Linked DNA regions of Homo sapiens. The protein of the gene in region 1 interacts with the protein of each later gene in a pairwise test. Each region holds a gene or a part of one and is shown on either strand. Other genes may lie near its edges.

What was found. The genes of interacting proteins can lie anywhere in the genome.
Region 2: the proteins of HNRNPH3 (region 1) and PSME3 interact in binary tests that used the Homo sapiens proteins (3 or more experiments, as listed by UniProt).

What each region holds. Positions count from the first base shown.
Region 1 is NC_000010.11:68,330,388-68,333,987, forward strand, and holds the start of HNRNPH3 (heterogeneous nuclear ribonucleoprotein H3), read left to right. Parts: upstream 1-1,676; 5' UTR 1,677-1,829; exon of another isoform or gene 1,830-1,848; intron 1,849-2,396; exon of another isoform or gene 2,397-2,715; intron 2,716-3,600.
Region 2 is NC_000017.11:42,836,260-42,840,082, reverse strand, and holds part of PSME3 (proteasome activator complex subunit 3), read right to left. Parts: intron 2,435-3,823; coding exon 2,386-2,434; intron 1,991-2,385; coding exon 1,878-1,990; intron 1,392-1,877; coding exon of another isoform or gene 1,353-1,391; coding exon 1,284-1,352; intron 1,139-1,283; coding exon 1,071-1,138; intron 972-1,070; coding exon 917-971; intron 790-916; coding exon 703-789; intron 1-702. UniProt on the Homo sapiens protein: Subunit of the 11S REG-gamma (also called PA28-gamma) proteasome regulator, a doughnut-shaped homoheptamer which associates with the proteasome. 11S REG-gamma activates the trypsin-like catalytic subunit of the proteasome but inhibits the chymotrypsin-like and postglutamyl-preferring (PGPH) subunits.

The DNA of each region.
Region 1 (3,600 bases):
CAGGCTTCCCAATGTCTGTACCACAAAGTTGAAAGTCTTTTGGCCGGACATTGAAGATTGTCTACAATCTAGCTTCATCCACATTTCTAACATTACCCCATCTTCCTGACACCCCACGTATGTTCCTACCTTTGTACTTGAACTTGCACTGATTTTTTTGGGGGGGAAAGGGAGGTGGGACGGAGTCTCGCTCTGTCGCCCAGGCTGGAGTGCGGTGGCGCGATCTGGGCTCAATGCAAGCTCTGCCTCCCGGGTCCACGCCATTCTCCTGCCTCAGCCTCCTGAGTAGCTGAGACTACAGGGGCCCGCCACCACGCCCGGCGTGTGTGTGTGTGTGTGTGTGTGTGTGTGTGTGTGTGTGTGTGTGTGTATTTTTAGTAGAGACAGGGTTTCACCGTGTTAGCCAGGATGAACTTGCACTGATCTCTTTACCAGGCTTCCCCTTAACCCTCTGCGCAGAAATTCGGGGTTTTTCTTTGTGTTTGAGACAAGAGTCTCCCTCGGTCTCCCAGACTGGAGTGCACTGGCGCAATCACGGCTCACTGCAGCCTCAACTTCCAGGGCACAAGCCATCCTTTTGCCCAGCCTCCTGTGTAGCTGGGACTACTCGGGAGTCCCATCTACTCCCGTGCGCTGCCATCACGCCCAGCTAATCTTTGTATTTTTTGTAGAGACAGCACCTCACTATGTTGCCCAGGCTGGTCTCCAACTCTTACGCTCAAGCGATCCTCCCCCTCGGCCTCTCAAAGGCGTAAGCCACCGCGGCCAGCCTTTTTTGGAACTTAAAAAAAAAGCCATAATGTGTCATTAGGAACCTTGGTGACATGACAGCAAAACCAAAATGTACTTATTTATTAGGTGTCACTTGGAAGCGCAATTTTCAACAACGCAAAACTATAAAAAAAACCCAACGTCGGCCTCCACAGGCTAATCAGTCTCCGAGGCACTGACGGCGGGAGAGATGAAAACGCGAAGGCCAGAGGAGAAAAAGAGGAAGGATTTGCAGAGAGAACGGTAACGTGGTGGACATGAATACACCCAAGAAACCCGGATCCCGCGCGGCACATTGGGACGAAGCGCGCTGGCGGGCGGCCAGCAACTCTGGGCCAGGGGAAGGAGGCGGACACCCAGCCCGAGAGCCGAAATCGGCCCCAGTGGACGCTTTCATCTTCGCGGCCCAGAAACACTCCTATTTTTCACCGCACAATGCAAACATGGTGGACCAGAAAATCCGCCCCGCGTTTGCCGGTCGAACCACGTGGGGCCCTTTCCGCGCCGTCGATGCCTAGCCAGGGCGGGGCCCTCACAGAATTTGTTCACGGTGGGGGCAGATCACCGGAGAACTTCTCCAGAGCGCTACGGCACGGTTCCTTCTACACACTGGCAGAACTGCCATTGCCATCGCCCCGAGGCGGCAGAATGGTACGCTCTGAAAACTGGATGGTTCTAACGTAAGCAAGAAAAACGGTGCGCGCTGCAGCTCTTTAACTGGAACAGCCTCTGCTCGGTCTACCTCGCCCCCAACAGCTGCGCAACCCACCACCGCGCAGGCGCGCTGCGTGCCGCCAGCGCCATGCGAAACCGACTTTCCCGTCTCGCGAGAGTGGGGCCGGCCGCCTTCGCAGTTCTCGCTCCGCCCCCCACTTCTTGCTCGTTCCCTCCCATCCCCCCAAGCCAGTAGCTGTGCTGCGCAGCTCCCTAAGCGGTTGTCACCGCTGGAGACGGTTGGGAGAACCGTTGTGGCGAGCGCTACACGAGGCAAACGACTTCTCCCTTCTTTGAACTGGACCCCGCGAGCACCAGAGTCGGCGTAACTATCGCCTGACAGGGTATCTGAAGTAAAAGGGGGTAGGTTGGGCTGGTGGTTTCGAGAGCGGAGTCGGGAGAAGGACGAAAGGCCGGGAGGGGCTGGGTTGGGGGGTAGTGGGGTGGTCGCCGCTCGGAGGCCGCCGCTTGGAAGCGGCGGGGCTGCGCCTCCCCGACCATCTCCCACTTCAGGGAGGGCGGCTTGCCGATGGGAGGACTTGCTCAGGTGGAATTCAGTGGACGACGCCGAGGCCCGAAGTAGGGGACATCCAGCATTTTCCCCTTTCCCTGCTGGCTTGGCCTCCGCCATTTTGGGTACAGTGGCGCGGCCACCTCGGCTTCCCGCCCTTCCCCGCTCTTTTTACTTTTTTGTTCCCCAGCTTCCGAAAACTGATCTAGAAGGCCAGGGGAGGGGGTGGTCAAAGCTCCCTGGAAGGGATGAGGGTGGGTAGTGAAGCGAGCAGGGAAAGGCCGGGCAGTTGGGTGGAGGGAGGATCGGGTTTGCCGGGCGCGCTCCCGATGGAAATGGCGCCGGATGGGCCTGGCCTCCCACCGCGGCCTCCCTTCCTCCGCAGTCTCGGCAGGGCTACCTGGGCTGACGGGACTGCGAGTGACTTCTGACGCAGATTCCCAAGATGAGAGAGGCTGGAGCTGGGGGAGGAAAGCCAATGGCGACGAAGGTGCTCAACTCCCAAATCCAGGACAAAGGAGGCAGACGGCCTCCTTTGTAATTCTGCCGCCCGGTGGCGAAGGGTTTTAAGCCAGGCTTGGCTGCTGACGGGAGGGGGAAGGGGCGTACTCTCCCTAGCTTTCTGGTCTCTAGGGCAGCTAGATAAACGGAAAGTCTCCTGGGAGGAATAAAGGACGCTTAGCCGGCCCTTATATTCCAGATTTGGAACTTCGAAAAGAGTACGTACTGATTTTCCAAAGGGTTTTTTTTTTTTCATGTTTAAACGTTAATAAGGACTTCGGGGATGATTTTGTGAGCAGAAAAGTGGGTGATTTATCAAATAGGAATGTGAAATGGGCATGTTTCAAGTAGGTCGTCTGGGCCCAGTGAACTATAATTGTTGCTTTTTGAACTTTCGGGGTGGGGGTGGGTGATGTAGCAATTGTTTTGCGTAGTTTGGCGTATATATGTTAGAATTTGTTTTTAAGTTTTACTTTTGGGAAACAGTTAAAACAACCCAGTGATGGTAGATGTGTGTGTATTGAAATTGAGCTTTCGATGTTAAATCTTCCAAGAGTTGTATTTTGTGCAGTTTTTTTTTCCGATGGCATTAAGGCTCTAGAAGTAAAATACTTCAAAATACGGTTATGGTTTATTTTCTTTTGGTAGCTAGGCATGTTTTTTCTTTAGTGTAGGAGTATAGTACACTGTAATCGTATTTTAAACAAGGGAATAAGCCTACTAAACATAAAAACAAATTGTAAACCCAGTCACGTGGTGGTGGTGTGATTCGGATGAGGGTCCTGAGAACTGGATCCGTAATTTTCATTGAAGACAGTACAAAAGGGAGGAGAAAGGCCTGAGAGTAAGAATTTCTGATAATTCATGTAAAACTTTATAAGAATATTGTTACCTACTTTTCCAGCTCTAAAAACAAAAACTTATTATTATTGAAGATGTTCAGTGATGCTTTCTCAAGATTGCCAAGGAAAAGTTTACGAAAATCTTACCTTGAAACAGTAGGTTTGAGTGACCCTTTGAAGAGATAGTCCAGACTGTCCTGTAAAGTTATATATGATATAACAAATAGCTTTACTAATTGGATTGGACTACACATCTTTTTT
Region 2 (3,823 bases), on another chromosome or scaffold:
CTGGTCTCGAACTCCTGACCTCAAGTGATCCACCCACCTTGGCCTCCCAAAGTGCTGGGATTACAGCCTATTTTTATTTTTTTTTTGAGATGGAGTTTCGCTCTTGTTGCCCAGGCTGGAGTGCAATGGAGCAATCTTGGCTCACCGCAACCTCCAACTCCCGGGTTCAAGTGATTCTCCTGCCTCAGCCTCCCAAGTAGCTGGGATTACAGACATGTGCCACCAGGCCCGGCTAATTTTGTATTTTTAGTAGAGACGAGCTTTCGCCATGTTGATCAGGCTGGTCTCGAACTCCTGACCTCAGGTGATCCACCCGGCTTGGCCTCCCAAAGTGGTGGGATTACAGGCATTAGCCACTGCGCCCAGCCCAGTCCCATTTTAAAGAAGAAATTGAAGTTTAAGCTTGAACAATTTGCTCGAGGTCACACAACACAGGTAGAGCCTGGTTGCAAACCTAAGTCTGTCTGACTCTGACACCTATATCTTAACCATATTGTACTGCACACCCCTCCACTCAGGTAGAAAAAAGAGAGATACCCTGCTAGATGACTTCATGGTTCTCAACACTCAGGTGATGAATAGAATTTGGTCTATTCATTTTACCTCAGACCCTCATCTCAGCCCTTCAGAGAATTTTAACAATACTCTCAACAGAACTAAGAGAAGCCACAGCAACTATGGACAAGGACTGAGATTACTCACATATTGATTCCTCAGCTCTGATATGATGAGCCGAAGGCTGATATATTCTTTCTCATCAATCTCTGTCACGGTGCGGCGATAGTCCTCCTGCAAGGAGGGTACAGGAAAAAGCTAGTCCCCAAAGCCCAATTGTTTCCAGACAGCTCCTTCCCAGTAACAGTCACTCTTCACTATCCTGCCACCTCCACCCTCAGGCCACAAACCCCTTACTTACCACATGGGGATATTTAGCTATTTTAGAAACCAATTTGGCTCTTGTAATATAATATCTGGAAAGAGAGAGAAGAGGAGGAAGATGCAGGAGACCCTTGATGGTGCCCACCACCTCATCAGCCCCCAACGCCTCGGCCAAGCCCAAGCAGCCCTACCTAGAAATCTGGTCCAGATAAGATGCAGCTTCACTCTCAACAGTTCTTAGCTCTGCAACTGTTTCCTCCTAAAACAAACAAACAACAGGTGCATCAAAAGCCACTTCCATGTCATCCACAGCAGCCCCAAAGAAAAAGGAAAAAAAGGTAACGCAGGGGAGATGAGAGTATCTCCCAAGCCACTCTTCCCAGTATGTAATTCAAGTACATTACCTGAATGGACACCCCAAAGTTGTTTCCATCTTCTATCCTGGGAATCAGGAGCTGTACCCACATTTTGACCTGGAGGTCAAAACATATATGAGGACCTTTGCCTGAAGGCTGAAGCCATGAAGTACACAATTCAGACGGCTGGAGCCAGATGCCAGGAACACAGAAGTCAAAATACCTAGTCTGGCCAGGCATGGTGGCTCATGCCGGTAATCCCAGCAATTTGGGACCCCGAAGCGGGTGGATCACCTGAGGTCAGGAGTTCGAGACCAGCCTGGCTAACCATGGCCAAAATGGTGAAACCCCGTCTCTACTAAAAATACAAAAAGTAGCTGGGTGTGTTGGCAGGTACCTGTAATCCCAGCTACTCGGGAGGCTGAGGCAGGAGAATCACTTGAACCCAGGAGGCAGAGGTTGCAGTGAGCCGAGATGGCGCCACTGCACTCCAACCTGGGTGATGGAGCGAGACCCCATCTCAAAAAAAAAACTCAAAAAAACCTAGTCTGCCAATTCCCATACCACCCGTACATCCACTGTTTTTTGCACTTCAGGTGGGGTACTTGGGGCCGGCCCATAGGTCACCAGCCTGTGCCTCACCGTGTTACATTTCTCAATCAACAGCCGGATCTCAGGTTTCACTTTCTCAATAATGTCCACCAGCTGCTGGTTGCTTTTCAGCATCCCATTGGGCATCACAAACACCTTGGTTCCTGGCAGAGATGTGAAGGTCAAATGATCAGGGAAGAGGGAAGGACACAGCATCCCCTGCCTCTCTCTCATTTTCCCTATACCTATCAGATGCTATGACCTCTGCCTTTGTCACAATCCTACCATGACACCACTATTAGAATCAACGAGAATGTATGGAAAAAAAGAACTACAGATGAGCGTCTAAAACATAACAAAAGTCTTAAATCCTCTGTTTATTGGAAAACCAGGTTTAGAGCACTCAATAACAAGCACGTTTGGAGGAGCTGGGAATGCTACCTCTGGGAAGTAAGATTAGATCTTGCCTCCTGGTCAGGAGAACACTAGATCCATCCTGCTTCTCAGGGTTGCAAGTCAGGGATGGGGTGAGGGGAGGTGAGGTAAGGGTGCCTCTTACCTTGGAAGGCTTCTTCACACTCATCCAACCTTCGCTTCTTATAAGTGGGCTAAGGATACAAAGAGGCAGGGATGAGCCTAGTTTTGACACCCACATCTCCATCACAAGATACCCTTCAAGCAAGTTTAATCCCTTCCTCAGCCTCATAGCTTATGTTATTAATTTCTGCACAATTTCCTAAGTACATACAAAGCTTTAAGAAAGGTTATTGGAGGCAAGGCGCGGTGGCTCATGCCTGTAATCCCAGCAATTTGGGGGGCCGAGGTGGACAGATCACCTGAGATCAGAAGTTTGAGACCAGCCTAGCCAACATAGTGAAACCCCATCTCTACTAAAAATACAAAAAGTTAGCCAGGCGCGGTGGTTCATGCCTGTAATCCCAGCACTTTAAGAGGCCAAGGTAGGTGGATCACAAGGTCAGGAGTTCAAGACCAGCCTGGCCAAGACAGTGAAACCTCATCTCCACTAAAAATACAAAAATTAGCTGGGCGTGGTGGCAAGCACCTATAATCCCAGCTACTTGGGAGGCTGATGCAGAGAACTGCTTGAACCCAGGAAGCAGAGGTTGTAGTGAGCCGAGATTGCACCACTGCACTCCAGCCTGGGCAACAGAGCAAGACTCCATCTCCAAAAAATAAAAATAAAAAAAATTAGCCGGGTGTGGTGGCAGGCACCTGTAATCCCATCTACTCGGAAGGCTGAGGCAGGAGAATTGCTTGAACCTGGGAGGTAGAGGTTGCAGTGAGCCGAGATTGTGCCACTGCACTCCAGCCTATGTGACAAGAGTGAAACTCCACCTCAAAAAAAAAAAAAAGGAAATAAAGAAAAGGTTCTTGGGCTGGGCGCCATGGCTCACACCTGTAATCCCAGCACTTTGGGAGGCCAAGGCACACAGATCGCTTGAGCTCAGGAGCTTGAGACCAGCCTGGGCAACATAGGGAAACCCTGTCTCCACAAAAAATACAAAAACTAGCTGAATGTGATGGCACATGTACCTGTAGTCCCAGCTACCTGGGAGGCTGAGGTAGGAGGATCACTTGAACCCAGGAGTTTGAGGTTGCAGTGAGCTGAGATTAAGCCACTGCACTCCAACCTGGGTGACAGAGTGAGACTGGGTTCCCCCTCAGAGAAAGAAAGAAAAGGTTCTTACCACAAAGCAAATTACGCTCTAGTTGGGAAGACCAATCTTTCCAGAAACACAATACATTAAGTATTATAAAGAATAGGAAAAAAGAACCAATCAAAGCAGGGAAGATAATTAAGGGAATACGTACAAATCTGCTGGTTCCACAAAGGAACACATTATTCAGTTAACAAACATGTATTCAGCAATTGCTAGGGACCAGGATCAACACTAGGTGCTGGGAATACAAAGATTAAGATAGCTCCTGCCGGCCGAGCACGATGGCTCATGGCTGTAATCCCAGCACTTTGGGAG